Linked DNA regions of Homo sapiens: regions 1, 2, 3, 4 and 6 are each reported to be linked to region 5. The links are microRNA targets in miRTarBase. Many come from high-throughput screens and were not tested one by one. Region 5 holds a microRNA gene; each other region holds the end of a gene's coding sequence.
Evidence for each region. The annotated mature microRNA hsa-miR-616-5p reads ACUCAAAACCCUUCAGUGACUU and lies in region 5 at 3,124-3,145, opposite strand. An mRNA with a match to its seed (bases 2 to 7 or 8) in the 3' UTR can be bound and repressed. Matches are read on the target gene's strand: a 7mer-m8 pairs with bases 2 to 8, a 7mer-A1 pairs with bases 2 to 7 and ends in A, and an 8mer does both.

Region 1 (5,084 bases), not on the chromosome of region 5:
CCAGGGAGCCAGAAGGAAGGGCCTTGCAGCCACAGAGACACTCCACTGCCCTGGGGCACACAGTGGACACTGCTCTTCCTACTTCCTCCTCTCCTGGATGCTCATCAGCTCCTTCTGCCTCCCCCCCTTTTTTTTCCATCTTTTGTTCCCCTAAATTAATGCTGCTTGGATTTTCATCTTATTTATAAAGATAAAATCACCTGGAAGTGTCAAGGAGTGGGGCGGGGTGGCGGGGGAGAAGCAGCCGTGCTGCCAGGTCACCCAGACCTCCAGACAGCCGGCTAGCCCCACTGCCCGTTCCTTTTACGCCCAAGTTTTGCTCCTTGAGAGCAGATTGGCTGATGCCCCTGCAACCCCAGCCCAAGCTCTGCCTCAAAGACCGAGTGACATAAGCCATTCCCACCCTCCTAGGTTCACATCCAGGGCTGTGTCTTCCTTGGGGGAGGAGATGGTGTCGTTTAGATCAGGGTAAGGCAGTCAGGCGGGTGTTCACCACTGCCTTTTCTTCCTCTGAGCGTGAGAACACTGAACCCAGCCACTGCCCCTGGGTCCCTGTCCTGGAAATGGTCTAATAAATCCTTTTCCCTTCTTGAGCTACCCAAGTGATCTCATCTTTCCTTGACTCTTAACTGAGACTCTGAAGGGCCACCCTTGCTTCCAATTAAAAGACCCTCTGGTTTTCTGTCTCCTCTCTTTTCTAAAGCAGAGCAGGAAACAGAACACTGCAGTTCTTAGGCCTGTTCTCCAGTCAGGTGTGCAAGGCCTCCTCCCCTTAAGGCCTCAGAAGTTTGGCTGGGGATGTTTGTGGGATCCAGACAGTTCTTGCCGTTGTTCGGCCTACAGATCAGAGACTGCAAAGTGGGAGCCCTGCGTACCAGACCCGTCCTGCAGCTGTGTTTGTTTGGTTTGGTCTGCCGCTAACATTTAAAAGTCGAGAGTTGCTGGGCGCGGTGGCTCACGCCTGTAATCCCAGCACTTTGGGCCGCTAACATTTAAAAGTCGAGAGTTGCTGGGCGCGGTGGCTCACGCCTGTAATCCCAGCACTTTGGGAGGCCGACGCGGGCGGATCACAAGGTCAGGAAATCGAGAACATCCTGGCTAACACAGTGAAACCCCGTCTCACTAAAAATAAAAAAATTAGCCGGGCGTGGTGGTGGGCGCCTGCAGTCCCAGCTACTTGGGAGGCTGAGGCAGGAGAATGGCGTGAACCCGGGGGACGGAGCTTGCAGTGAGCCGAGATCGCGCCACTGCACTCCAGCCTGGGCGACAGAGCAAGACTCTGTCTCAAAAAAAAAAAAAAAGTCGAGAGTTGACATAAAAATTCAGAATTCTGACTTCTAGAAGATTAAATTAGGTAATGTTGGGCCTGCGTCCTCATGGGGCAGCCTGTCAGCGGCCACTAAGTAGAGGCTGCTCTGTACAGAAGGGGTCCCCCATCCCCACTCATCTGTGTTGCCTGCCCAGATAGCCCCATGGCCATTTCAGTTTGCGACCCCCAACAGACCAAGGACCCAGAGCTGGCAGCCCTGGACCCACGTCCGGCAGGCAGTGAAGCTGCAGAGGCTGTCCCACGTTTACCCCATGCATATAAACAGACCAAAGTCAAAGCACATTCACACAGAAAGACCTGGCCTAGTAAATGAAGCTTATAGCCTGCAAAGGGCTTTGTTCCAACCTTCCCTCTCCAAAACCCAGTACTGCTCCTCTACCTTTCAAACCTGGTTGGGCCAGAACTGATTACATGGCCAACTCTTGGCTCACACTGGGCTTGCACTGGGCCATTTCTTTGCTCTGGTTCAGAGCCTCTGCAGAAGTGAGCTAACTTTGGATCAGTAGCTCCAACACTTGGCTCCAGTGCTGGCAGGTTACCCCTCAACCATAGCAGCTGGGATCTTTGTGGCTTGGGGGTGCTTGTGTAAGTTCTTGGTTATGTGCCCTCAGCCACCAGGATATGAACCGTGTCTGCAGAGCTTCACTTTAGTGAGCTTACAAGTTTTTAAATTTTTACTTCTAGTTACATTTACTTGAATCAGAACGTTGTTTCCTCATTCCTACTGCTTAAACACCTTGACAAGTCCTAGGGGTTAACAAAGGTTAGCATGGCTATGGTCCATCCCTGTGCTCTAGTTAGAGCGTGAAGACACCTGACTTTCCAGTTGTCTCTCTCCATGACCAGCAACAGGAACCACTGACGCTGAACTTTGGACAGTGGCCTCAGACTCTGGCTGCCAGCACACAACCTGCCATCATCGATGTTAAACATGCTGACATGTGCAGAGGAGTTTCCTCCCTGAAATGCTCTGAAATTCACTTCTCTGCCTGGGGATTCTGTTATAAACCTTCTGCCTACATTGGCTTTCACTGTGGAAGTTGATTTCTAAAACTCTGATGAGCTCACAACGTTGACATGTATATGCGTTTTTTGTGAGTGCTTCCTGCTCAAAGTGGGAGAGATTTTACTGGAAATGCAATAAAGTTTGCATTTTATTGCTACCGATGCCCACCACAAAAGCGTTAACCTCAGAAAGCTATAAGAAGCATCAAAAGATTGCCATAGCCCCCTGTAAGAGCTTCTGAACATTGTCCAAATGAAAGGAGGCTCAGCTGAATTCTAATTTTCCTAAAGACCCATGTTTTTAGCATCTATGAGCTTTCTACAAATCTCCCCATTGGCTGCATCTCTGACCTTGCACCAGTATCTGGTTGGGATTCCCTTTTTTTTTTTTTTTTTTTTTTTTTGAGACAGAGCCTTGGTCTGTCGCCCAGGCTGGAGTACAGTGGCGAGATCTCAGCCCACTGCAACCTCTGCCTCCCAGGTTTGAGCGATTCTCCCGCCTCAGCCTCCCAAGTAGCTGTGATTACAGGCGCCTACCAGCACACCCAGCTAATTTTCATATTTTTAGTAGAAACAGTGTTTCGCCATGTTGGCCAGGCTGGTCTTGAACTCCTGACCTCAGGTGATCTGCCTGCCTTGACCTCCCAAAGTGCTGGGATTACAGGCATGAGCCACCAAGCCTGGCCGGGATTCCTTTTCAAAGTCTGGCTGCACCTAGAGCCAGTTTGCTTCTGCTTGGCCTCATGGGGCCTCAGAGAAAGCCACAAAGGAGGATGGGTCTTTCCTGGGTTCATTTAACTGCCATTTATAACACTTTTTCCTCTAAACAGCTTAATGGACTTCCTACTACTTGTATAGTTTGATTTTCAGGACTCTGTTCAGCAAGAATACCTACTTTACAAAACTCAGCATAAAAATGAGGTGAAACAGTTTAACTAAAACTGGAGTTTGGCTGGGTAGTGTGGCTCACAACTGATCCCAGCACTTTGGGAGGCCGAGGCAGGAGGATTGCCTGAGACCAGGAATTTGAGGCCAGCCTGGGCAACATAGTAAGACCCCCGTCTCTATCTTAAAAAAAAAATAAAAGAATAAAACAAGTTCCTTCACCTCTTGACAAGACAAAGCTGACACTTTTTTTTTTTGAGACAGAGAAAAAAAGAAAACTCTACAGCCAGAATCATACTTTTGAGTCTCGCTCTGTCGCCCAGGCTGGATGGAGTGCAGTGGCGTGATCTCAGCTCACTGTAACCTCCGCCTCCTGGGTTCAAGTAATTCTCTGCCTTGGCTTCACGAGTAGCTGGGATTACAGGTGCTCGCCACCACGCCCGGCTAATTTTTGTATCTTTAGTAGAGACAGGGTTTCACCATCTTGGCCAGGCTGGTCTTGAGCTCCTGACCTCGTGATCCACCCGCCCCGCCCTCCCAAAGTGCTGGGATTACAGGCGTGAACCACTGCACCTGGCCACTTTCTTAAACCTACACATTGGTTGCTGTGATATTAATTCTATTTTTACAAAATAAGTGTATAACCAGGAAGTACTAATCCTGCTTTCTATGCCCAATTGTTAACAGGAAAGGGCTCAGTGCACTTCTCAATTGTCACCCCTGCCCCCAGCCCTGATCCACGGCCTCTACCCCAAGAATGAGCCAAGAACCAGCTGCTCTAGGGATCTCAGCAGCAAAATCCTGCCCAAGGCTGTTAAAATGTGTGGGCACTCATTTACACTCGTGCTGTCATGAAACACATCCTTGAACAGGGACTATTCTCTTTCATTTCCATAAGCAAACTGGCGTCTAAGGCCACAAGCCCTCCGTAAAAATAAGAACTCGGCACAAATGGCCAGTCACATGCTTACCTGCATTTTTAAAGACAGCTTTCAGGTATTTGGGGACTACATTATTACCAAACCTTGGCTTTGGGAGATTATACAGGTCCGAGGAACTCGTGTCTACTGCAGACGAATGCAATTACCCCACCTTCCTCCATACAGAATTGTTAGGAAATGTCCACTCCTTTGGGGGTGATTTTTCTCCTCAAGTTGTAGCCAACATTTTGTCCGTAACTGATTTCAGGGCAAACATTTCTGACATCTTCCTCCAGCTCAGTCTGCCATGCCTTGGCAATCCAGTTTCCTGTCATATGCGAGCCATCCAAGTTGATGCCAAGTAAGATTTGCCCAGCTCAAAGTGAAAGTGTTTGCGTCTTGGTATCCGGAATCCTCAGCCCCAGTAGCAAAGCTTTAGTCATTCACCTTCATCCAATAGACGTTTGTGAACGTCCTGCTGTCCATTTTGTCAATAAACAGGCAGCCCTGCAGGTGGTCCATCTCGTGCTGGATGATGCGGGCTGCCCACCCGCTCGCCTGCCACACCACCTGTTCTCCATTGGGGTCCAGCCCTGCAAAGGAAGTTACAGCCCTGGTGAGTGGGAACAGCTGAACTGCATCATCCTCAACCTCCCTACCCCTGCCCCCGGTCCTGGCTGTTCCCATTGACAAGAGGCAACAGCAGATGGCAAATGTAGACAGCAGCTCCTCTTCTAACTGGAAAACGTCCCTCATCTCGGTCCATTACCAAGCGTTCAACCTGGTTCCCAACTCTGGTAATTAGGTTATCGAGCTCACTGTAGAGCTGAGATGAGAAATCATCTTTCTACGGTGCGACCCTTCCGAACACTCCTCCCACTTCTGAGGTACCTGTGGGCTCCCAACTCCTAACAGAGGTTCTGCAGCTTGAGACCCCACTTGTT
Region 2 (5,084 bases), not on the chromosome of region 5:
GTGGGGTCGACTCCCAAGGGGAGGGTGACAGGGAGGCCGGGTGACGAACAGGGCAACTCCAGACAAAATGGGGATTCATGCCAAGTGGGGAAGCAGTGGGGGACCCCAAAACACCCAGCCTGCCCAGAGAACACACCGGGTACCCTAGATGACAAGGATATCCTGCTCCTAGAAAAATCTAGAACGCCCCATCCGATCACTTTCCGTTCTCTCTTGCGTTGCCTCTCGACCTTCTCGGCTCGGCCCTTCTCACTCCAGGCTACAACCCAGTCTCCAACCCAGCTCTCCCAGGGCGCCTCACCACTCTGTTTTCCCTGTATTTACTTATGTTGGTCTCCCCAAGCCAGGATGTAGGCCCCAAGAGGGTGGTGGCTTTTGTCTGGTTTGTTCCTGAGGTGTCCTCTGGTACCCAGAGGATATTTGATAGACATTTCTTGAATGAATGAATGAATGAATGAATGAATGAATGAACAAAGGCATGGCCATGCACATACTGCTTTCATCATCCTCTCCCACCCCTGTCTGCTCAACAGTGTTCCACTCTGGGTCTGGCCATCGGGGCGGAAGCCGGTATCTAAGGCCACTCTGTTCCCAAGACCGGACAGGGGCGCGGATCACTTAGAGGAGGTGGGGCGGAGACATGGGACCTTCAGGCCTAAGGAAGCAGGACTGCTGAGTGGATTCAGTGGGGACAGTGACCCCCAGTGGCCACTGAGAATTTGTGCATGAAAACAAGTGTGTTACTTCAATATGCCAGGCAAGGGAAGTACAATCTGGCTCAGCTTCCAGCTGCATTAACTCAGTCTCTCGTTTCTCTGTGGGTGACCCCCCCCTACATTTTCTCTTACCCCTCTCCCCTACCAAAGCAAACAAAGTCCAAGGTTTTCTAGCTGTAGAGACTTTTTCTGATGAAGAAACAGGCACAGACCCATGAAGTAATTTGTCCAAGTCTGTCTGTCCTACACACACACCCAAGGTTGAACTGTAGCTTAATAACCAGGGAGGCTGCAGAAGTCCTGGGAGACCCCAGACCAGGGAAGAAGGGGCTGGAGCAGCTCATCCTCCACCTCCTCCCTCTCCCCATTTGATGTTTCCAGAGCCAAGGACTTGGAACCTATGTTGTTTAAGTGAACGCTGACAACTATTTAGGTAAGGAGGGCCAAGGGCATCGTTACACAGATGTGCTTTCAGCAAAGACGACGGAAGTGGATATAAGGGAGGAAACTGGAGTAAACGAGGACCCCAGGAGACTTTCTCCCCTGCCCCGTGGCACATCCTCCTGCCCCTCTCTGCTAGAGGGCCCTGGCCCTGTGGGCACTTGCTGAGGATGGCTGGGCCCGTTATCCACGATAACCCGAGGAGGCACCGCATACCCCTGTCCACCGTACGGGCCACTGCATAAAATGAAGGCTTCACCCTCTGCTGCCCACGCTGAGCCTCCAACTTTCTTCCTTCAAACGCCGACCTATCCTCACAATCCCAGATTCCAGGGAAGTCAGGTCAAGTTCTCCCAAGCAGTCTCCCCAAGCCTGAGACTGATTTTCTTCTAGGCACCCCCAGCAGCAGGAACTAATATTCAACAGTAGAGTTGCTAGAGACATCTGGAAATACTGCTCAAAACAGAAACAACGACCCCTCCAAGTACAGATCCAGAACCATGAGAAGGATCTTCAACCCAGCAGCCACTGTAAGGTGGAAGCCTGCCCAACCTTCAGGCTGGGCTCCCTTTGCAAAAGCTTTCCCAATACACTGCCCAGATGGTTGCAGGCAGTTTTAGACTATGACACTGAAGTGACTTCACTTGGTCTTTTATTGCCAATTTTGATTTATATTTAAGGATGATGGCTGAGAACAGGCAGGCCATCAGGGGTCCCCCACCCCAACTCCCACAATCAATGCACAAGAAACAGATTTGTAAAACCTAATACTGTTCTTCTTTTTCTCTTTTTTTTTTTTTTTGAGACAGAGTCTCGCTCTGTCGCCCAGGCTGGAGTACAGTGGCACCATCTCAGCTCACTACAAACTCCGCCTCCCGGGTTCAAGCGATTCTTGTGCCTCAGCCTCCCGAGTAGCTGGGATTACAAGTGTGTGCCACCGCGCCTGGCTAGTTTTTGTATTTTTAGTAGAGATGGGGTTCCACCATGTTGGCCAGGCTGGTCTCAAACTCCCAACCTCAAGTGATCCACCCACCTTGGCCTCCCAAAGTGCTGGGATTACAGGTGTGAGCCACCACACCCAGAAAAACCTAATACTGTTCCTCCCCAGGTATGGCCAGGAAGCAGGCTGCTCAATAAGGACAGGGGACCCATGGTCATTCATCTGTCTGCACAGGATCAACAACTGCAAACCGCACCTCACGCCAGCCACATGACACTGAAAGCTGTCTCTTTTCAGAAGAGCTGATGGCACCTCCTGCATACTGTCCTTCAGTCCGCGGCCCCAGCAAAGGAGGATGTCAATCAGTGACGGGGCAGAGATAATCAAGAAAATGCTTTCGGCTGGGCGCGGTGGCTCACGCCTGTAATCCCAGCACTTTGGGAGGCTGAGGTGGGCAGATCACGAGGTCAGGCGTTGGAGACCAGCCTGACCAACATGGTGAAACACCATCTCTACTAAAAATACAAAAATTAGCCGGGCGTGGTGGCGGGTGCCTGTAATCCCAGCTACTGGAGAGGCTGAGGCAGGAGAATCCCTTGAACCTAGGAGGTGAGGTTGCAGTGAGTGGAGATTGCGCCACTGCACTCCAGCCTGGGTGACAGAGCGAGACTCTGTCTCGGAAAAAAAAAAAAATGCTTTCAGTGGAAATGCATTTAACCAGAACAGACCGTATCCAGGGAAAGTTTTTTCCCTTAGATTTCTCAATCTTGGCTGCGCATCAGAATTACTCCAGGAGCTTTAAGAAATCCTAATATTCAGAACATACCCCAGACCGATTAGGCCAAATCCTCCGAAGCGGGAACCCAGGCACTGGTATGTCAGCTCTTAGGTGATTTCAGTATGCAGCTACAGTTGAGAACCACCCGTCAAAACAGATACCATTTGACCAGGCATGGTGTCTCACGCCTGTAATCCCAACACTTTGGGAGGCTGGGGAGGGAGGATTACTTGAGCCCCAGGAGTTCGAGACCAGCCTGGGCAACATGGAAAAACCCCGTCTCCCCTAAAAATATAATAATTAGGCCAGGTGCAGTAGCTCACACCTGTAATCCCAACACTTTGGGAGGCCGAGGCAGGCAGATCATCTGAGGTCAGGAGTTAGAGACCAGCTTGGCCAACATGGCAAAACCCCATCTCTACTAAAAATATAAAAATTAGCCGGATGTGGTGGCACACACCTGTAATCCTAGCTACTCAAGAGGCAGAGGCAGGAGAATCGTTTGAACCCAGGAGGCGGAGGTTATAGTGAGCCGAGATTGTGCCACTGTACTCCAGCCTGGGCGACAGAGTGAGACTCCATCTCAAAAAAAAAAGAAAAAAAATATATATATACACACATACTTGTGTGTGTGTGTATATATATATATATGTATCATATATATGTGTGTGTGTGGGTGCATGTGTGTGTGAAATTAGCATGGCATGGTGGCACATGCCTGTAGTCCCAGCTACTCGGGAAGCTGAGGTGGAAGGATCGCTCGAGCCCAGGAGGTCGAGGCTGCAGTGAGCTGAGATAGCGCCACTGCACTCCAGCCTGGGCAACAGAGCAAGACCCTGTCTCAAAAAACAAAAAAGATACTTTTTTTGCTTTGAAAAACCAATCTAAAAAACTAACCTATTTAGATACCAAATTGCATATGAAATAAAATCTCAATTCTCTTTTTAGAATAAATAGATCCACAAAAATGCTAAGGAAATATACTACAACATTAACGAGGGTTACTTCTGGTGGGAAGATGATGGGTGATACCCATCTTTTTCACTTCACTTAGTTACTAAAAGAATAAGCATCGTCACCTTTAAAATCAGAAAACAAACACAACTACCTTCCAAAGTTTAATCAATCAACTCCTTAGAAGTGAAATCTAACAATCACTTCAAATACTCTAAAATTCGACAGAGTAAAATCTCAAATTACTTTCTCATCTTCCTAATTCTTATTGAAAAGGAGTCCCTCCATGAAGTGTGTGCACTTTCACGAGGATGCCAGGGAGGACTCACTGATTTTCACACTGGATAACGTTGAACCGCTCCAGTTTCAGAAACTCATCAAAAAGAGGATTTACTACGTTAAAACGTTCATGTCCCAAGTTAAAAATGGATACTGAATACAACAGCATCCATATTTCTGGAGAAAAATCAGTACACATGTCACTTCTGTTATAGAAATCCATTTACAGTGTGTCCCGCTCCATGGAAGCCCTGGTCTCAGGCACCTCCAGCTTTACCGTCTCCCTGCACACACCGGGAGCCTGGTAGGCTTCGAGCAGAAGCCGAGGTCCCATCAAGGGTCCAGACTTTCCGTGCCTCCTTTGTTTTCATCGAGTCTGGGCCGCTTTAGCTCTGGGGGACTGCCCTGAGCGTCTCCAGGCGTCTCTGCAACATTAACAAACATAAGGTTGGCAAGTAAATGAAGAATTCTGGAAGTCAAGGGCTGACATTTACAGAATACAGAGCCAAGACACGGAACTGAGCTGCCTGGCAAGATCCTATACTGATATAATGGAAGTTCTATAGAGTGGCTCTCAACCAGGGGCGATTTTGCCTCTCAAGGGACAGTGGGCAATGTCTAGTGGCATTTTTGAATGTCATGGGCAAGCTGGGCGCGGTGGCTCACGCCTGTAATCGCAGCACTTTGGGAGGCTGAGGCGGGTGGATCATTTGAGGCCAGGAGTTCAAGACCAGCCTGGCCAACGTGGTGAAACCCCCGACTCTACTAAAAATACAAAAATTACCCGGGTGTGATGGCGCACGCCTGTAGTCCCGGCTACTCGGGAGGCCGAGGCAGGAGAATTGCTTGAACGTGGGAGGTGGAGGCTGCAGTGAGCCGAAATCGTGCCACTGCATTCCAGCCTGGGCGACAGAGCAAGACTGCATCTCAAAAAAAAGAAAAAAAAAAAAAGAATGTCATGGGCAAGAAGTAGCAG
Region 3 (5,084 bases), not on the chromosome of region 5:
GAGGGGGCTGGCTTTGTCTGTTTGCTAGGACACCCCAAGGAAATGGAAATGCAAGGCAGAGACGGATCGTTGTGTAGGGCTCTGGGAGGCTGAGCAGTATGAGATGGAAACTGGACTTGGGTGGTCAGGGAACAGTCTGCTGAGATGAACACTGCTAGCTGTGTTTGTTGCCTGAGGGCCAAGGGGAGGCCTAGGGTGAAAGGCAGCCAGGAGGGGGCTGTGGCATGCACAAGCAGGGAGGGGGGTGTGGCACCCTGGCTGGCTCCTCTCCCTGAGTGCCCTCTCCCACTTCCCAGGTCTCTGCAAGGGCCACAGTGGCAGAGCGTGGAGGAGGCGTTCCCCCACATCTACTCCCACGGCTGTGTCCTGAAGGATGTCTGCAGTGAGTGCACCAGCTTTGTGGCAGACGTGGTGCGTTCCAGCCGCAAGAGCGTGGACGTCCTCAACACTACGCCACGACGCAGTCGCCAGACCCAATCCCTCTACATCCCTAACACCAGGACTCTTGACTTCAAGTGACAGCCCCAGGTGGCCAGGCCTCCAGGAGGCACCAGGCAGGCCCTGTATCAGGCTAGGACGCTCTGAGCTGTGCATGTACATATATACATATATAGATACATTTATAATATATACACACAGTCTATATATTTATATACACTGTTTCCTGGCCCCAGAGCTCATTTGGGTTCAGGCGCACTTCAAAACCCTCCCTGGGGGAGGCTGTTTCTTCTCAGGATTCCTTGCCAGGGAGGAAGGGGAGGGAACAGGGTGGGTTTTCTCACTGAAGAGAGAAAGCAGAAGGTTCTAGATCCTGGCACAGACTGCATCCCATGTTCCCATGCTCTTCTCCGTCCCCAGGAATGCGAACGGCAGTTTCCCTTCCCCAGTGGACGTCTAGGTGGGGACAGGGTATCTTGGCTCCCAGCTGGACCAGAGTGCCCTGCTTGCCTCTGCTCTCCCTTTGTGGGGACTCAGGCAGCAGAGGCATCTGGGAAGTCTCTGAGTAGGCAGGGTCCTCCTGGGAGGCACCCCCACCTGTTTGAAAGGTCTGGCCAGGCGTGGTGGTTCAGGCCTGTAATTCCAGCACTTTGGGAGGCCGAGGAGGGAGGATCACCTGAGGTCAGGAGTTTGAGACCAGCCTGGCCAACATGATGAAATGTTGTCTCTACTGAAAATGCAAAAATTAGCCAGGTATAGTGGCAGGAACCTGTAATCCCAGCTACAGGGGAGGCTGAGGCAGGAGAATCGCTTGAACCCGGGAGGTGTAGGTTGCAGTGAGCCGAGATTGCACCACTGCACTCCAGCCTGGGCGACAGAGCGAGACTCTGTCTCGAAAAAAAAAAAGGTCCGTGCCAAGCTGCTCCCTGCCCTTGCCCTTTCCCTTTCCCTGGGGTCCAAACCACATGTGTCCTGCCTCTCCTGGCCCTACCACATTCTGGTGCTGTCCTCACTCGCCCCTGGCCCAGAGGCTCCTGAAGATGCTGGGCGGTCCTGGCACAGGGAGGAGCAGCTCTGTAAATCTGTGCACATGGCCACTCTTGGCCTAATAAAGGAGGTCTCACAGTCTTCTGTCTGGGATGTGCGCTGAGGATTCACCCAGCATGGCATGTTCTCCCAAGGTTGAAGCTGGGCTTGAGGGGCCACCTGCCTTCCAGGACGAGGAAAGGCCTCCTGGCTTAGAGTCAGGTGCCCACCAGGCAAGGGCTCCAGGCCTGCTCTGTCCACGCAGCCCTGGCTGCCTCTACCAGCTTCGTGGTCCTGGCCACCATGGTCAGGGCTGCATGCGGACGGCACAGACTACTGCCCATCAGCTCCTCTGGCCACACCTGCTGGCCTGGGGGGTACTTTGGTCTCATTTCCCAGATCCGTATTCTCGTTCTCCAGGGAGAGGATCCACAGGGGCAGGAGGTGTGACTGCAGGCTCTAGACAGGCCCTGTGCCGAGTGCTGTCTGCTCACCTGCGCCCGGCTCAGCCTGTTAACGGGGCCCTGCCCTGCTCCTCCGTGACGTTCTGCCGTCATCTTACCTTACAGATGAGGGAACTGAGGCTCAACGAGGTCAAAGAATTTGGCCAAAGATACACAGCTCACCCAGAACTTTGACTCCAGGCTGTAATGCTAGCCGTGGGGCCTGGAGGTCAGAAGGGACAGGACTTGTAACTGATGGGCCTGCGGGAGAAAATACTCCTGTCAGCTGGGGTCCAGGAAATCCAAACACACAAAATTAGAGCCCCCAGTAAAAACAGCCAGCTTCTAGCATGCGTGTAAGCATTTCACGGACTCTCTGGCCTGTATTTTTATTCCTGTTTAAAAATAAGAAAACAGGCACAGAGAGGGTCAGGGAACTCCTCCGGTCACACAGCCAGCAATAAGCTAATGTGTAGTGCTTGGTAAGGACGACGGTTGTTCTGGTTCTACGGGGACTCACACTCCCTATCATGGGGAGACTGGGTTGTAATTCATACAGGAACACTTGGAAATGAAAGCCCACGTTAAAACCCTAAACCACGGCAGGTGCAGTGGCTCACACCTGTAATCCCAGCACTTTTGGAGGGTGAGGTGGGCAGATCACTTGAGGTCAGGAGTTCGAGACCAGCCTGGCCAACATGGTGAAACCCCATCTCTACTGAGTACAAAAATTAGCCGGGCATGGTGGCACATGCCTGTAGTCCCAGCTACTCGGGAGGCTGAGACAGGAGAAGTGCTTGAGCCTGGGAGATGGAGGTTGCAGTGAGCCGAGATTGCGCCACTGCACTCCAGCCTGGGCAACAGAGCAAGACCTCATCTCACAAAATAAAATAAAACCCTAACCCATCCTGGGAGGGGCCAGGCCGGCTCACCAGGGCTGCTGCTTGTGCTCATGAAGCCGCAGTAAGTCGGGCAGGAGGCTGCTGGCACCTGTCTTCTCTATGCCCTCCTGTCCCCATGTCCCCAACCCCAGGCACAGGAAGCTGTGCCCTCCGCCCACTGAACCCAGCACTGTCTCAGCCTCATCTACTTTATTTTTTTCATTTTTTTGAGACAGGGTCTGGCTCTGTCGCCCAGGCTGGAGTGCAGTGGCGCGATCTCGGCTCACTGCAGCCTCAGCCTCCCGAGTAGCTGGGATTACAGGCGTGCGCAGCCACGCCCAGCTAATTTTTGTATTTTTAGTAGAGGGAGTTTCACCGTGTTGCCCAACCTGGTCTCGAATTCCCGACCTCAGGTGATTCGCCCACCTTGGCCTCCCAAAGTGCTGGGATTACAAGCGTGAGCACCGCGCCCGGCCCTTAGATCGTGACAAACGCGGGCGGCCTGTCCTAGAACTGTCAGAACCACTGTCCCTAAAGAGGCCTCGGGCGGGCAGTAAGGGCCGCGTCACTCAATGCTGCTCGAGGGGCGGCGGCTCCAGGGCAGAGGCGGGCATCGACGGCTAGATCACTCGAATGACACCCTGACACGAAAAGGACCAACTAGCAACGTCCGGGACGCAGCTGAAATGCTGCAGGCACGGTGCGGGGACAGGCCCCGGCGGGCAGAACGCGGCTGCGGGTTCCGGGCCACATGGATGGGCAAGGCCGGGCAGGGCCGACTGTCGCCGGCTGCGCGCCCGTTACCCCGAATCGAAGCCCGTCATCCCCGCGGGGCACCTCTCCATGCCCGGTGCGCACGGCGCGCAGACACCCAGCTCTCCAGAGACCTGGCCCGGACCCCCCGGAGCCCGCCCAGACGCCGCCGCTGAAGCGGGAAAGTTCCGGAGAGCCGCGACGCGCAGGCGCCGCAGCCAGGTCCTGCCCCCACCCCTCGCGCCAAGAGTGCGCAGGCGCGCAGCCAGCTCCCCCGCCCCCGACCCCGCGCGAAGAGTGCGCAGGCGCGCCGACAGCCGAGTTTTCTGCGCTTCCTTCTCCCTCTCTCCAGACGTCGTGGTCGTTCGGTCCTATGTCGCGCCGGGCCCTCCGGAGGCTGAGGGGGGAACAGCGCGGCCAGGAGCCCCTCGGGCCCGGCGCCTTGCATTTCGATCTCCGTGATGACGATGACGCGGAAGAAGAAGGGCCCAAGCGGGAGCTTGGTGTCCGGCGTCCCGGGGGCGCAGGGAAGGAGGGCGTCCGAGTCAACAACCGCTTCGAGCTGGTGAGGAGCGCGGCGGCCCGGGTGGGGGTGGGGTGGCCCTTGACGTTGTGGGGCGGGGCGAGCGTCCAGCCGGGTCGGGGAGCGGGGTTGTGATGCCAGGGGTGGGAAGGGTGACGTGGGTCCCAGCCGCAGTGGGGAGGGCGGGGCCGTGCGTCGGGGCCAGGGCGACGCGGGTGGGCGGTGGCGTGGGGTGAAGACGGCGGGCCGCGGAGTTAGACTGGGTTCTAACCCCGGTGAGGTGGGCGGGGCTAAGGGATGGGGCGGGGCCGTGCTGTCGGGGCGGGGCGACCGAATGGGCGGGGTTAAGCGGGGTCCGGGTTGTGGAGGGTGCGGGGCCTTGATGCCAAGGGCGTGGCCAACGTCCGCGGGGCCGGGCCACGACGTGGGCGGGATTAAATGGGCCTGCGGCCACGTGGCTGTCGTGGGGCCGTGACGCTAAAGGGCGTGGCTAAAGACGGGGGGGTGGCGAGGCGATGGCGTGGGCGGGGTTAAATGAGGCCTGGGGCCACCGTGGGGGTGGGGCCACGGCGTAGGGGCAGGAGTCGGGTGGGGCTTCCCTTTCTCGAGTCTAGAGGGGCCTTCTCTCGGTTCCAGGGTTGAGGACTTGCCAGGCCTCTGCGAGCATTCTGCTTTAATCCTCACAACAACTCTGCCTAACCCAGGGCCTTGCTCTTCGCGCATCCCCATCAGCCTAACCCAGCGGATTAGTCTTACTCTTTGCTGCATCTCCGGCAGCTCGTTTCTGGCACAGGGAAGTAACAGTTTGACTGTATGGTTTGCTCATGCGGTCCTGTGACGTTTTCTCCTAAGCCCTGGCCTCCGTCTGTAACTCTGCCTCTGCGGGCTCTGCGATCCTCCCACCTCAGCCTCCTGAGTATCTAGGACTACAGGTGGATGTCACCACGCCCGGCTAATTTTTTTTTTTTTTCTTTTTTGTAGAGAAGAGTTTTCGCCTTGTTGCCCAGGCTGGTCTAGAAC
Region 4 (5,084 bases), not on the chromosome of region 5:
CCATAACTGTTTTCTATTTACTTCAAATGGTTTTATAATAATTTTAGAATTATTTTTAAAAGACAGTACCTAAGAATCAGAGAAACTAAGTGGAGAAAATCATGATAGTATTTCCCCAAGTGTATTCTATGGAACCCCATTTCTGTGAGAATTTTAATAAAAGGTTTCAGGGTTATTTAAATTTAAGAAATGATCATTTTGGAGGTTCAGATGCCACACTGGTAGACTGTCAATTGGGCTGAACTGTTCTCATATGAAACATCTTGTTTAAATTTATTCTAATATTATAATTTTTGTGACCATGGAACCTTGGTCTATGAACAATAGTTCAGGAAACCCTACTATAAGGTTTATCAAATGGTCTCATAAACAGTTACTTATTCAAGCACGCCAAAGCTCAGTGAAAAGTATTTTTCACCCTTACTCTTTCTCGTGTCATTCAAAGAGAAGTTTTGATGTAGTGTATTTATTTGTAGGGAGTAATGAACAGATCCATTTCACAGTAGACTTTGTGCTCTAGGTGATGCAGCTAATTGCCCCAGTTTGGAAAACATGGACTTGGATGAATTGTCTTTGTTTGGACCCCTGCCTGGGCCAGGCCCAGCCCTTGTGGACCGGAATCGATTATCCAGTGAGAGCAGCTGTAAGAGCTGGCTGAGCTCCATGACGATGGACAGTGAAGATGGCTACCAGACGTGTGTGTCTGAGGACTCCAGCAGGGGTGCCTTCAGTCGGCAGACGAGTACAGATGATGAGTGCTTTATCCCCAAGGAGGGGGATGATTTTCTGAGGAGGTCATCTTCAAGGAGGAACCGGAGCATCAGTAACACCAGCAGCGGATCCATGTCTCCCTTGTGGGAGGGCAACTTATCAAGCATGTTTGGGACCCTGCCCCGGAAGAGCAGAAAGGGAAGTGTCCGAAAGCAACTCTTGAAATTTATCCCTGGCCTTCATCGTGCTGTGGAAGAGGAAGAAAGTCGCTTTTGACGGATTGTGGTGTCCTTTCAAATTAGCTTATTTCACAAATATCTCTAGACTCACCCAGATCCCAGCTTGGTGGGAAAGTGCAGAAGAATTGCAAAACTGACATCCCATTTCACAGCAATAGTGACCTTTATTTAAATTGTTGTGTTATAGTTTATGCTTCTTAAATCATTTTTCAACCTAAACAGCCAATTTCTAAGCAGACAGGAAAACTAAATAATAAGTTAATTAATATAACAAAGATGCAGGTTCCTGCTCATTCCAGTAATGTCTTTGAAAGCAAAACTAATATTTATTTTCTAGATTATCCCTGTGAATAATTGAGAACTTTTTGGAGTCAAGTATGAATAAAGGTGTGGCAGAATATAATAATCTGGACTATTTTCTATAGGATAATTGCTGGGTTATAAAATCTTAGGTTTGCTTATGCCCAGTAGCTCCTGCGGAGGCTTAATAATAGGCAATTTTGAATTTGTTCAAACCTGTAATGGCTTGTAAACAAAGATGACCATCAGCTGTTTCTCACATCTATAGTGACAATAAAGCGGGAAGTATAAGATTTAATAGGAGGGGTTAAGGTTCATGAGAACCATGGAAAGATGTGGTCTGAGATGGGTGCTGCAAAGATCATAATAAAGTCATTTTTATAGACAGTCTAAACAAAATGGGTGGGGATGTCGTGTTTTTTGCCCAATTCAGCTTTTGTTCTGCCTGAACATTAATGGCAAGTCTAGAACTCTCCGAATCCTACAGCTTTGTAATTTTTTTTCTACAAATGTCTAACATCCAAAACTGAGGGTTGGGAAAAGGACTTCCCTCCTGTAGTTTTTTTCATATTACTTCTCACTTTATATCTTATATTCTAAATAGCTATCACCTCAGCAGTCTTTTGCCTATTGGTTATGTTAGTATCACATTACTTCTAGCCTTTCAATTACTCCATGTTTTATTTAATATCCATTGAAGTCTATGAATTCTCTGTTCTGGTGGCACAGCTATTCATAACCTATATTCTAGAGTAGACAATCTGGACTATGTAATAAATAGTCTGCTGATTTTAAGTTCTCTCTCTCTCTCTCTCTCTCTCTCTCTCTCTCTGTGCGTGTGTGTGTGTGTTTGGGAGAAATAGAAACACTTCAATTTAAGTAGAGCTGCTAAATTTAATTAAACTTCTGCTTAAGAAATGAGTTATTTTGAGATAAAAGAGGGTAGGGTAAGGAAGCATCTAAGATGAGAAAGAAATGATAAAGTATGAAAAGATTTCTAGTTGGGACTTGCCTTCTATTAACTCTTTGAACTGAGAAACATCCAGTGGCCTGTGCATGACAGTCACTCATATGAAAGGCAGGGTGTCACACCTTTCACAGAAATGATAGCAATACTGTCTACCATTTACTGAGTACCTAGTTGGCTAAAGACACTTTACGTATGATCCTCACAATTACTATATAGTAGGTGTTAGGCATACAGATAACAAGTCAGGAATTTGGAAATGTTCTCAGGGTCACAAGGCTAGTCAGTGGCAGGGCTAAAATTGGAAGCCAGTTCTTCCTTGCTCTAGTCTATTCCAGATATCTTTTACTCTTTTGGTTCTGTTTAGTGATCATCACAGTACTTTTTATTCCACCCAACAGGAATACTTAAAATGTACAATTATAGATGCTGCACAGATAAGAGCATTTCTTTGGGTAAATAGGAAAACAAACATTTCTCTGTTCCTCATATACAAGTTTCAGACATAGGTTCTTTAATAACTACATGATTAGCAGTGCATTTATTTTCAACAAGAGCTTGCAAACCAGTTATGATTCAACTGGTATTGCTTATTTCTCATCATAGTCTAGAATCATCCTGTTAAAGGTCTACTTATATGAATTCAGCATTTCTTGTTATCCTATTTCACAAAGTCCAGGGGAAGGAAACACCACATTTATTTGAGGAAAGATGACTTTGAAATCTTCTACAAGGTGAAAAAATGCTTTGAGAACTACACAGAATGACATAGGTCATACGGGAAAGCAGACCATAGATCATTTGCTTTTCTTGTGATTTTAATACAGAAGTGTAACACTGCTGTATGACAGTAGACCTCAAATGCAAAAAAGGGGCAGGGAAGGGACGGAGCAAGCATCACTTTAGTTTGCGGTAAGAATTAGAGTCGAGGTATGTTCTGAGAATAAAGAAAAAAGTACTGGTTAACCAAAGTACAGGAAGGAAGGGTATGTCATGTTCTATATTTCACAAGCTGTAAGAAAATTAGCTTTTGTTTAGTAGAAATGTGGGTAAATTTCTCACAGTATAACTTTCAGACTAATTTATGACTTCAGTCAGGCTTTAGAAGAAACTTCTGGTGCATAGTGATTCATTCTGATATAATTTACTAGGGAAAAAATTGAAAAGTGTTTTTTTAACTTGAAAGTTCTCAAATATGTATTACTGGTGAATTCCATTAATTGACAACCTGTTATGAAAATGCATTTTTCTAGAAGGGCATTTGATAAACCAAATTTGAATCAAGTAGATTGGGAATTACTTTATCATGTGGCTGAAGAACACAACCATGACAAACAGATTAGTAATATATTTTTGGAAGTGAACTTTTATTTATGACTTTCTACCTTGTAATAATTTTATATCTTAAGATACAGATAGCATTTAAAATCCCAGTTTGCGCTGAATAGATCAAACTTGGAAATAGTATGTGTGTCTTGATCACCAAAGTACAGACATTTTTGAATGTATACATACTAAAAATAGTAAGTAATACATAACTATATTGAGCCCCTCAGATCATAAAAGTATTGTTATTTTATATCCATTTCCTTACATACCTATGGGCTACAAAATCAAAATTTGATGCCTTTATGAAATAAAGAATGCTATTTTTCAGTGTCAGGACTTTCTCTCTCTTTCTCTGTCTCTCTCTCTCTCCCTACATTTCTCTCTACCATAAAGAAATAATTGTCTTAAAAGCAGACTTTTTAAAAAACCTGGGTGATTCTCAACATTTACTTCTTTGAGGACCTTAAAAGACACTACTTACTTAATTGAGACTTTGCACTATTAGCTTTTTTATTGCTATTTAACAAATTACTGCCAGGCATGGTGGTTCACACCTGTAATCCCAGCACTTTGGGAGGCCGAGGTGGGTGGATCACCTGAGGTCAGGAGTTTGAGACCAGCCTGACCAAGATGATGAAACCCCGTCTATACTAAAAATACAAAAATTAGCCGGGTGTAGTGGTGCATGCCTGTAATCCCAGCTACTCCGTAGGCTGAGGCAGGAGAATCGCTTGAATCCGGGAGGTGGAGATTGCAGTGAGCCGAGATCACACCATTGCCCTCCAGCCTGGGCAAGAAAAGTGAAACTCCATCTCAAAAAATAATAATAATAATAAAATAAAAATAAATAAATAATAACCACAAACTTAGAAGCCTAAAATATATTTATTATCTCAAAGCTTCTGTGGGCCAGGAGTCTGGGCACAGGTTAGCTGGATCTGCTCAGGATCTCACAAACCTGCAATTTACTGCAATTTTGGTGTTGTTATCTGGAGGCTTGATTGGAGAAGGATCAACCTTTAAGCTCCTTCAGGTTGCTGTCAGAATCATTACCTGGTGGCCATACAATTCATGGCAGCTTGATTCTTAAAGGCTGGTAATGAAGAGGAAAAAGGGAGAGGCTACAAACAAGACAGAGTCTTAAATAATACAATGTTATCGCCTTTGCCATGTAACATAACCTCTTAAGTGACTTCCCGTCACCTCGCCTAATAATGTAACATTAAGATGGGAATAGTATCCTATCAACTGTACCATGTTCTGTTTGTTAGAAACATGTCACAGGCCCACCCACACTCAAGAAGCAGGGATTACACAATCATGAATATTAGGAGTTAGGGATCAGGGGACCACCTTAGTCTGTTTGTAACACCATTCAAGGAGTTCACAGACTTGATAATATAAGGGTATTGAGCTGTCTCTAAATCTCCTTGAGTAAAAATTAGTGACTGTCATAATAATTTCCACATAAAGAAATGGAAGCATTAGTGAATTTTGGAATGAAATAACCTGGTCAAGATTGCATAACTAGCCAAAAA
Region 5 (5,000 bases):
GCTTCCTCACTTACAGTTTTTCTTTCCTGTCTTAACTAGAAGAGACCTTCGACTTAAAGGTAACCACTTTCCCTCTGAGATGCTGTATAAAACTGGAGGTTAGGGGATATTTATGGTTGCTGGTGATAACTTTGTTGTTCTCCAGGCAAAAACGTCCCCGAAGCCAGCAGTTGTAGAGACTGTTACAACAGCCAAGCCACAGCAGATACAAGCGCTGATGGATGAAGTGACAAAACAAGTATGAAGCTTAAGCCCTGTGGGAGACTGGACAAGCTGAATCCTAAATAGATCTTTTTCTTGCCTCACTGTTACCTCCCCACCCCCCTTTATCTTAGGGAAACATTGTCCGAGAACTGAAAGCACAAAAGGCAGACAAGAACGAGGTTGCTGCGGAGGTGGCGAAACTCTTGGATCTAAAGAAACAGTTGGCTGTAGCTGAGGGGAAACCCCCTGAAGCCCCTAAAGGCAAGAAGAAAAAGTAAAAGACCTTGGCTCATAGAAAGTCACTTTAATAGATAGGGACAGTAATAAATAAATGTACAATCTCTATATACAAGCTGAGACCTTTCCTTTTGTCTACTCCAAGCCTTCCCCCTGCGTATGTGGGATTGAGGGTCACATCATTGGCACTAGTGAGAGGGTAGTCAGTAGCCACTTCTGGGAAAGGTGGGTAGTGTGGCCCAAGTGGGGGACTGATGCTCCCAATTGTTCATGCTTGGTGCAGATTCACCATTCGGTCAATCAGAGCTCGGCGAGTCGCCTCTACTTCCCTGGTCAGGCGCTCGATTTCCTGCTTGAGCCGTTCATTCTCTTCAGCTAGCTGTGCCACTTTCCTTTCATTCTCCTGTTCTTTCTCCTTCATGCGCTGCTTTCCAGCCCGGGCTGGGGAATGACCACTCTGTTTCCGTTTCCTGGTTCTCCCTTGGTCTTCCTCCTCTTCCTCCTGAGCCAGGGAGCTCTGACTGGAATCTGGAGAGTGAGGGCTCTGGGAGGTGCTTGTGACCTCTGCTGGTTCTGGCTCCTCCTCAGTCAGCCAAGCCAGAGAAGCAGGGTCAAGAGTGGTGAAGATTTTTGATTCTTCCTTCAAGGAAATGAGGAAAGGGAACATAGATATTAGTTGAGAAGGGAAAGGTAACATCCCCCTTTAGCTTTAGGGCTAACATTCTTACCTCTTCATTTCCAGGAGGTGAAACATAGGTACCCCCATTTTCATCTGAAGACAGGACCTCTTGCAGGTCCTCATACCAGGCTTCCAGCTCCCAGCTGGACAGTGTCCCGAAGGAGAAAGGCAATGACTCAGCTGCCATCTCTGCAGTTGGATCAGTCTGGAAAAGCACATCTGCAGGATAATGGGGAGTGGCTGGAACAAGCTCCATGTAGCAAACAGTCTATGCCACAAGTTGGCAAGCTGGTCTGATGCCTGTTTTTGTAGGTAAAGTTGTACTGGAATACAGCCACATCTGTTTATTTACATATTGTTTATGGCTGCTTTGGTGCTACAGTGGCAGAGATGAAGAGTCACGCTAGAGACTATAGGACTTTTAACATCTAAAATATTTACTGTCCTGCCGTTTAAAATTTTTGGAAAAGGGTAGGTTAAGTTTACCTGCTTTCAGGTGTGGTGATGTATGAAGATACACTTCCTTCTTGAACACTGTGGGCAACAAAGAGAAATGTCAGCCATTTTTGGAAGGGGGAGAGGCAACTTACTTTTCTTTTTCTTTTTTTCTTTCTTTTTTTTTTTTTGAGACCAAGTCTTGCTCTGTTGCCAGGCTGAAGTGCAGTGGTGCGATCTCGGCTCACTGCAACCTCTGCCTCCTCGGTTCAAGTGATTCTTCTGCCTCGGCCTCCCGAGTAGCTGGGACTACAGGCGCGTGCCACCACGCCCAGCTAATTTTTGTGTTTTTAGCAGAGATAGGGTTTCACTATGTTGGCCAGGATGGTCTCCATCTCTTAACCTTGTGATCCATCGCTTCCCAAAGTGCTGGGATTATAGGCATGAGCTACCGTGCTGGGCCCTTATTTTTCTTTTACCTCCAGCCTCCTACTGGTCCTTCCTTACTTCTGGTCTTGTGGGGTATGCATACTTGGTCCCTGTAGCCATTTCGAAGGGCAGAAGAGGGCCTGACTTTCTTTATTTTTAGTTGCTGACATTTGTAGTCCTGGTTACATAATAGTAAAGTCCTGGCCAACTCAGCTTTCTCTAAATCCAAAGCAGGCCTCAAATCTGCCAGGGTAAAAACTAAACTACAGGGAAGGGAACAAATCATAGCATTTTCCTAACTCCATTCCCACAGGGCTGACATCCTCCAAATGTACATTTCCAGTCTGGACCTCTTCCAGAACTTCAGACTCTGCTGTCTACTGCCTACTTGCCATTTCTTTTTCAATGTCTAATAGGCACCTAAGACTATGTGCAAAGGCAAACTCTTGCTGATTTTCCCCTTCCAAGGTCATCCCCATCTCAGATGACAACTCTAGTTGCTTAAGCTAAAAACCTTGGTATCATCCTTCATTCCTCTTCTCTCACACCCTGCAATCCAAAGTACTAGCAAATTTTAACTCATTCCTTTTTTTCTGAGACGGGTCTCACTCTTTTTGCCCAGGCTGGAAGGCAGTGGCGCAATCGGCTCACTGCAACCTCCGCCTGCTGGGTTCAAGCGATTCTCCTGCTTCAGCCTCCGGAGTAGCTGGGATTACAGGCATGCACTGCCATGCCCGGCTAATTTTTGTATTTTTAGTAAAGATGGGATTTCACCATGTTGGCCAGGCTGGTCTTGAACTCCTGACCTCAGGTGATCCACCCACCTCTGGTCTCCCAAAGTGCTGGGATTACAGGTGTGAGCCACCATGCCCGGCCCTTAACTCATTCTTTAAAAATGAGTTTTTAAAACCTTTGCTTAGAAGAATCTAAACACTTCTAATTCCATTGTTTCCAATCTAGATCAATTCACTACCATCTCTAAATTACTGCAGAAACTTTCTGACTGCAGAAGGTCTTCCCATTTCTTCTCTTGCCACCCCTCCGCAACTCTATTCACCATACAGCAGCCTGAGTGAGCCTTTTAAAACAGGTCATTCCTCTGCTCAAACCCTCCAATGACTTCCTATTTCATGTCATGGAAGTCACTGAAGGGTTTTGAGTGGAGGAATTACCTAAGGTAATTCCTGACCACCTGATGTAACACTCTGACCTCCATCCTGAACATTCTCCATTCCTTTCTCTGCTTTAGCTTTCTCCGTGGCACTTATATTTTGTTTACTGTAGGCCTCCCACTGAGATGATTTTTTCCTCTTGCTCAAGGATGTACCCTGAGCCCCAAACTGTGTGGCACACAGTAGGTCCTCATTAAGTATTTGTTAAGAATGAATGGATAAACTCCCCCCAGTCTCTCTTATAGGGAAGGGGCAGAAGCAGAGTGGCAGCTGCTGATCCCTAGGGGCTAGAGATGCAATATTGCCCGAAGTATTTCTCTGCAGGGCTGTCCTCCCTGGGGAACCCTCCCTTGCCTTCCAGTGTGTGGGACTTGGCTTTCATCAGCAGTAGAGCCTCAGGTCAGAAGGCTGCAGAGCCAAACGGGGCTGGCCTGATGCAATGGTTACACAGAGATTAGCTGGGAGACAGGACCGGGTTAAAGAGGCAGGGACTAATCCCGAGGGAAGGACAATACCCTGGGGAGACCCCAAATGGCCTCCTACACTTAAGAGATCCAGGCTGCTCTCTTGTGCAGGAGGCCCAGAGACCTCTACGGCAAAAGGAAAACACACCACTCCCTGTCCATCGGCACCCCTCCCAAAGGCTTGTGTCTCCTCAAGGTTCCCCTATCCGCTGCAGGGTCCAGTAGCCCCAGCTACCAAGGTGGCCATGCTGACACCAGAGGCACTGAGACTGAGACAGAATTGGGGGTGGGGTAGGGAGAAGGCCCGCTGGTGGCGAAGCGGCGGAAACGGCCTGAGCGATGGTCACCCAGTCTTAGAGCGGGGGTGTGTCCTGCTGACCTGCCTCCCCGCGGACAGGCCTAACGATGAGGCCTGAAGTTGGCTACGGGAAAGAATGAATTTCCCAAGGGCAACCGAGGTCCCTTTGCCCAGCAGCACAGAGCAGGGCCCGTGTTCCGGCTCCGGGCAGGGGTGGAGAGACGCCGTCGTCCGAAGCAATAGGGGTTTGTAAGCACCACCCCAGAATAAGGGACTCTCCCCATTCCTCTCTCGGACGGTCCCTAACTTCACTGTGGAGGAGTGAGGCCGATCCTAAAGAGCGGACGCCCCAACTTTGAGGAGACGGGAGGGTAAAAGGTAGATGGGAATCAGTACTCGCCTCTCTCCTCAGGTTCCAGCTCTGATTTTGGCTCTGTCGCTGCCACCCGCTCATCTTTAACATGATACGCTCAGTGCCTTAGACTTAAGTCTCTGACCTCGGGAGCGCCTGGCTGTAATCTTTTACCATGGCCTTGCCCTCCTCTCAGGGGCGGGACCCCAAAACCTACCAATCAGAAAGTGGCACGCCGGCATTGGCCCCGCCCCGTCCCTCGCATCCGCCACTCAGGAGCCCCGCGGCACCGCCCCCGTCGCTCCCTCTCGCTAGGGGGTCGACGTAGTGTCGGACCCGGAAGTGGCTTTGGGTCACGAGGCTTCACGGAGGAGGTGGGTGAGTCATGCGCGCGCGCGGAGGGGAGTGTAGCGGGGGGGGAGGGGAGGAAAGGGGGGCGGGGATGATGCAATGTTTGGCAACCGGTGTCTGCACGCGCACGCGCAGGGGACACCGAGGGTGGTGGGAGGTGCGGAGGGTGGGGGAGAGGAGAGAGGGCGGGGCGCCAGCTCCCGGCGCCCAACGGCCCCAACGGCTATCAGCCTTGGTCGCCCCTAGTCGGTCGTGAGCCTCTTTGCCGCTTGTCTCCCCCAGAAGCTGCTGTTCCGCCCACCTAGCTTTACCCGCCGTTTTACCCCCACTATAAGGGACTCCCATATTTCTTGGCCCCTCCCAGCTAATGGGCACATAG
Region 6 (5,084 bases), not on the chromosome of region 5:
AGTGAGGCATAAGCACCCGGAATCCGGACTGGAGGCCGTCTCTGCCTCTGGATTGCACACTGGCCTACAGACCTGGGGACAGAGTCTTTCACGAGTTGTGTATCGTTTAACAGAAACCCAACAGTTCCACCCAAACCTCCTGACACATTCTCGGGCTTGGGAAGTGTCCCAAAGCACCAAGGGGGTGAGACACACGCCTTGAAAAATGGCAGTAGGCATACTTACCTGTCTTCATGCGCTCACATACGAGGTGTACCTAGAACGCCCTCATGTTATATTCCCAGCACTAATGAAGCTACTGGTCAACAGCTATTTGTTCCCAAAGAATTTTCCCTTGCGCAGCCGCAGCCTGGAGGAAGCAGGGCGTGTGCCCTCGTCTGCTGGCGGCAGCAGTGAGGGGTGTAGCCAAGTGCCCACTTCTCTCATTCAGCTGCTTCGGGGCAAACTGGAAAGATCCTTTGAGCTCACAGCCCCCTGCTCAGTGCTACTCCTGAACCTGCGGGCCTGTGTGCACAGCCACCCACAGCGCGCACAACACATGGGCCTGCCCAGGGCAACGGCACCGTCAACAGCGTGTGCCCTCGCTCAGGGCCCTGCTGGTACTACGCTTCCCAGTGTGCAGGGTTCCCAGACGTGTGTCCTCTCATACATTGCATTTCCTCCCTAAGCTGCACGGGGCAACACCGTGTTAGGTCCCGCGCATCTGCTCCTGGGCCACATCCGGCTCCGTCTGTATTGTTCCTGAATTCAGTTTGCTGTCCTAGAACAAGGCAGCAGGAGGGGAGAACAGCTTTTCAGTGTCTTTAATTAGGCAACAGGAAAAAACAAAGTCTGGCTGAAAATTACTATTTGAAGCTTGGCCGATGCCAACACAGCACTCGCTCCCTGCGTTCTGGTAAGTGATGGCCATTGATTTCAAGGACGTACCAAGGGGCGAAAAGCAAGAGCAGGAAGTCACCTCGCTCTGGAAAAGAAGCTGGTTTTCATCTGCTGTATGTGCTGGTCCCAAACATACCCTTTTCTCTTTTTTTAGTATTTTTTTTCCCAATTAGGAATTCAATGTGGAAAACATACCCTTTTTCTTCAACAGGCTTTTAATGTTGGGAAGACAGGTTAAAAAAAACAACAACAACAGGCTGGCTGTGCCGGCGCACGCCTGGAATCCCAGCACTGTGGGAGGCCAAGGCAGGCAGATCACCTGAGGTCAGGAGTTCGAGACCAGCCTGGCCAACATGGCGAAACCCCGTCTCTACTAAAAATACAAAAATTAGTCAGGCGCGGTGGTGTCGCTTGTAATCTCAGCTACTTGGGAGACTGAGGCAGGAGAATGGCTTGAACCTGTGAGCTGGGATCGTGCCACTGCACTCTAGCCGGGGCGACAGAGCGAGACTCTGTCTCAAAAAAAAAAAAAAAAAAAAACCCTCATCGCTGTTGTGAGGATGAATGGATGGGATCTGGAAGTCACTGTGGTAAACACAAATCTGGGAACCACAGAGTGGCGTTTTCACAGCCGCCCCCAGCCTCCACCTGCAGGGCCTGGTTTTCCTGGCTGCCGGAGGAAGCCCTTGAATATGCCACAGCTGGTGCTGAACCTGCTTCCAATTAGCAACAAGAATCTGAAGGTGGAGCTGCTTGGCGGGGATTATCATGCCACCCACTTCGCCTGCATCTGTGGCCTTTACGACCTCTCACTATCGATCCCTGACACTCAGAAGTGATTCTTCCCTAACGGTTTCCCGCAAAGCAGTCACTGTATAAACCTGAACCTTTGGAGTAAACCTTCCCCACGGGTCTTAAGGAAGCTACAGACCCACTCTAAAAGGGGAATTCTGGTGTCAAGAATCCAGTTGCAATGACTTAGGGCAACCCCCTCGCTGGACTTTGTTCCTCCTGCCCCAAAGGTAAGCAGCTGCTAAGAGAACCCACCTTTCCTCCGAGGCCATCATGATACATGGAGAGAAATCCTGCCACCTCCCACATTCAGGTCGGCCACATTCATCCCACCCACCCCGACCCCTAAGGGAGACTCTGGCAGCGTTCCCAGAGAAGCCTTGAGCCTGGGACCTGCTGGGTTTAAGAGGCTCCCACACTTGGCCCATTCTTCACAAGGAGACCCGTGCGTGATTCCTCCTGTTCTCCCAACCAGCTTTCTCAGGCTTCAGAGGACTCGGCTCCCCTGGAGGGAGGAAATGGGCAAGAATGTCCACAGCAAGGTACGCGATCTGAGGATTCACCCTCCGTCCAGGGCCAAGTCAAACCAGGAGAGACGGTGGCCAGGGCTGCAGGAGGGATCTGCCTCTGCCACGGTCATCCAAATGAGCTTCCTGGCTGCCGGAAGCCAAGAGGATGTGACAGATGCTACATCCTGGGGGTCTCAAAACTCCTGGGACTCAGCTCCCAGCTACCAGGTATCCTCCACTGCCCACCCCGATAGAGCACAGGACCACAAGCAAAAACAACTTTTGTGATCAAGGACAGCAGAGGCCCAGGGTGGATGAGGTCCAGAGATGCCTGCTTTATTTCCTACGGGGTGATCGCATTTCAGGCTGGTAACATCACATAACAAGTCTAATCGCCAACTAGTTGTACGCCTCTGAACTACAAGTCAACAATCCAATTCAGCAAGGAACAACAGTGTCAACAGCTCATTAGCGGGTGGGGACCGGATTTTCCAAATCAATGGTCTTGGCTGGCAGAGTGCTGAGTGGGGCCTGAGTGAATGAGGCTAAAACGCTTGGCCGAAGCCGTCCATCCCCAATCCTGAGAACAGAGTTGTCTGTTTCTCTTTCGGGGGTCAGGTCAGCCCAAGTAAGAGGCCAACAACCTACCTGGGCCGATACAAGGCGACACAAGGCCCACCCGTGGCTGACGCGCCCTCCACCCTCACTCCATCCCGGGGCACAGCTCCTTCCGCTGGTGCTTAGGAAAAGGCGAGGCTTCTGGTAATTTCTCATCTTTGTAGTTCTGCTTTGAAAAGAAAAGGGGGCCGGGCACGGCGGCTCACGCCTGTAATCCCAGCACTTTGGGAGGCCGAGGCGGGTGGATCACCTGAGGTCAGGAGTTCGAGACCAGCCTGGCCAACATGGTGAAACCCCATCTCTACTAAAAATACAAAAATTAGCCAGGTACGGTGGCGGGTGCCTGTAATCCCAGCTACTCGGGAGGCTGAGGCAGGAGAATCACTTGAACCTTGGGGGCGGAGGTTGAAGTGAGCCAAGATGGTGCCACTGCACTCCAGCCTGGGCGACAGAGCAAGACTCCATCTCAAAAAAAAGAAAATAAAAGGGAATGGCAGGGGTGATCGAACGTGGGTGTGGGCACCTCAGCAGAGATCAGGGGCCTTGGGCACAGAGCTGGGTGGAGCGAGAGGTCCGTGCTGGTGCAGAGGTGCTCCTCCTAGGACTCAGGGCTAAGTTTCTTGGGAAGATGTCCAAAGAGAAGGATTCGTTAACAGAATTTCAGGATCGTGGGAGCTGTTTGTATGATATGAACCATTACCTTAGCTACATTTTTCTTCTCACCCAAAAAACCTCTACAAGCTTCCTTTTGCATTTGGAGATCCCCTGCCTGAGAACACAAGAGTGGGCTGCTTTTCTCTCAGACCGAGGAAGACTGTGTTGCTTAGAAAAGGACGTCCTCACCCGCAGCTCTAAGCGGAGGCCCTTTCTCAGCTCAGCCTCCACGCAGGTGTCACCCGGCGGTTCCCCTCTGGCCGTCCGGGGCCGTGTGTGCCGACGTCAGAGTCAGAGCCCGAGCGGGACCCACCGGCCCTCCACGCTCACTCTGCCCAGGACACCCTGGCAGATCCTTCACCAAAAGCTAGTGACTTTGCGAAAGCCATGCAGCCCCGCTCTGGCCGGGCCCCCGGCCATCCCGTGCTCCCAAACAGAGTCTCCAAACACGGTGGACTCTGCCGCTGCTGATTCCACACCCCAGGGTGCTGGCTGAGGAGTTTACTGCAGAAACAAGGCACCACAGAGAGGCTGGACACTTGGGTGGTGGGATTCGGGGCACGCTGGGTAAGTCCAAGGGCGGAAGGAAGGAGGGGGAGGAGGAGAAGGCTGAGTTTTAAATAACGTCTCAGGAGGCCGGAGCCACGCTAGATGGGCTCCGGTTTGAGCTTCTCTGCTAGGAAGTCATTCACAAAGGCCTCCACGATGGCGGGGGTGATCTCCTCCACGTCCATCACGTACTTGGCCCGGGCTGACATGTCCAGGATGGTGAGCAAAGGGGCAGCCTCAGGCAGGTTGGTGTAATCTCGCAGGGAGTCAGTCATGTCATCCTGAAGCCGTCAGGAGGGAGAGAAAACCAAGAAGTTTTAAAGAAAGGAGGGGGAGAGTCCCCTGGGCCCAGTCTCCCCAGGTGTGGTAGCTCCCGCACCCTGAAGAGCCGGCGTTTCCCAAGCAGAGGGCTCCCAGCCTGGGAAGGAGGGAACCCTGCCCTGCCTTCCGGAGGAAGGGGCTGCTTTGTAAAATTCTCTCTTTGCATCCGCCCTGCAAACCACTAGGTAAGTCGTCTGTATTTAATTATTTATGTATTTATTAGCATCAACACCATTTTAATACGTCCTCAGCATTTTAGAAATGTCACATTCTTTTTTTTTTTTTTTTTTTTGAGATGGAGTCTCGCTCTGTCACCCAGGCTGGAGTGCAGTGGCACGATCTCGGCTCACTGCAAGCTCCACCTCCCGGGTTTAAGCAATTCTCCTGCCTCAGCCTCCTGAGTAGCTGGGACTACAGGCGCCCACCACGCCCGGCTAATTTTTTACATTTTTAGTAGAGACGGGGTTTCACCATGTTGGTCAGGCTGGTCTCCAACTCCTGACCTCAGGTGATCCGCCTACCTTGGCCTCCCAAAGTGCTAGGATTACAGGCGTCAGCCACCGTGCCAGTCTAGAAATGTCATAGCCTCTGATTGTTTATTTTTGTAACCAACTGTCAATGATTTGCAGCCCCACTGTGGGTTATCTGAGGCCAATCTGGACTTCAACTCTGGAATGTTTTTAAACAGAGACAGCTCGCTGTGTTCCAACTCCCACCCCTGTGGTTTCAGGCAGGACAGGAGCTGCACAGCCAGCCAGTTCA

Region 1: the mRNA of PDF is a reported target of hsa-miR-616-5p. The part of its 3' UTR that is shown has no 7-base or 8-base seed match.
Region 2: miRTarBase lists CHAF1B as a target of hsa-miR-616-5p. Seed matches in the 3' UTR shown: 7mer-A1 at 4,065-4,071, 8mer at 3,715-3,722, 8mer at 3,457-3,464 and 7mer-A1 at 2,158-2,164.
Region 3: miRTarBase lists SPIRE2 as a target of hsa-miR-616-5p. Seed matches in the 3' UTR shown: 7mer-A1 at 1,128-1,134.
Region 4: the mRNA of CYTIP is a reported target of hsa-miR-616-5p. The part of its 3' UTR that is shown has no 7-base or 8-base seed match.
Region 6: miRTarBase lists NXN as a target of hsa-miR-616-5p. Seed matches in the 3' UTR shown: 8mer at 3,263-3,270.

What each region holds. Positions count from the first base shown.
Region 1 is chr16:69,324,447-69,329,530 of GRCh38, forward strand. It overlaps PDF (peptide deformylase, mitochondrial), which reads right to left. Exons shown (of 2, transcript NM_022341.2): 2 at 2,467-4,733. The coding sequence ends at 4,576. VPS4A (vacuolar protein sorting 4 homolog A) reads left to right here. Exons shown (of 11, transcript NM_013245.3): 11 at 1-2,493. It overlaps COG8 (component of oligomeric golgi complex 8), which reads right to left. Exons shown (of 6, transcript NM_032382.5): 6 at 1,982-4,733. Among named protein-coding and RNA genes, the nearest start is that of PDF, 3.6 kb to the right of the region's middle.
Region 2 is chr21:36,415,724-36,420,807 of GRCh38, reverse strand. It overlaps CHAF1B (chromatin assembly factor 1 subunit B), which reads right to left. Exons shown (of 14, transcript NM_005441.3): 14 at 1,793-4,533. The coding sequence ends at 4,442. Among named protein-coding and RNA genes, the nearest start is that of CLDN14-AS1, 12 kb to the left of the region's middle.
Region 3 is chr16:89,869,754-89,874,837 of GRCh38, forward strand. SPIRE2 (spire type actin nucleation factor 2) reads left to right here. Exons shown (of 15, transcript NM_032451.2): 15 at 297-1,566. The coding sequence ends at 519. TCF25 (TCF25 ribosome quality control complex subunit) reads left to right here and starts at 3,839. Exons shown (of 18, transcript NM_014972.3): 1 at 3,839-4,106. The coding sequence starts at 3,915. LOC112268179 (a long non-coding RNA gene) reads right to left here and starts at 3,735. Exons shown (of 2, transcript XR_002957933.2): 1 at 3,215-3,735; 2 at 624-2,168. RefSeq lists enhancers at 2,597-3,553, 3,324-3,483 and silencers at 3,564-3,683, 4,154-4,623.
Region 4 is chr2:157,411,580-157,416,663 of GRCh38, reverse strand. CYTIP (cytohesin 1 interacting protein) reads left to right here. Exons shown (of 8, transcript NM_004288.5): 8 at 521-2,045. The coding sequence ends at 987. Among named protein-coding and RNA genes, the nearest start is that of CYTIP, 30 kb to the left of the region's middle. RefSeq lists an enhancer at 2,913-2,962.
Region 5 is chr12:57,516,100-57,521,099 of GRCh38, forward strand. MIR616 (microRNA 616) reads right to left here and starts at 3,160; the gene lies at 3,064-3,160. It overlaps MARS1 (methionyl-tRNA synthetase 1), which reads left to right. Exons shown (of 21, transcript NM_004990.4): 20 at 146-238; 21 at 336-553. The coding sequence ends at 482. DDIT3 (DNA damage inducible transcript 3) reads right to left here and starts at 4,415. Exons shown (of 4, transcript NM_004083.6): 1 at 4,319-4,415; 2 at 1,607-1,654; 3 at 1,170-1,339; 4 at 494-1,081. The coding sequence starts at 1,307. The coding sequence ends at 710. It overlaps LOC128125814, which reads right to left and starts at 4,381. Exons shown (of 2, transcript NM_001414991.1): 1 at 4,319-4,381; 2 at 1,613-1,654. The coding sequence starts at 4,381. The coding sequence ends at 1,613. It also overlaps a transcript of MBD6 not described here. RefSeq lists enhancers at 3,251-4,212, 4,183-4,312, 4,187-5,000, 4,213-5,000 and a silencer at 4,383-4,842.
Region 6 is chr17:796,850-801,933 of GRCh38, forward strand. It overlaps NXN (nucleoredoxin), which reads right to left. Exons shown (of 8, transcript NM_022463.5): 8 at 2,461-4,282. The coding sequence ends at 4,100. Among named protein-coding and RNA genes, the nearest start is that of MRM3, 17 kb to the left of the region's middle.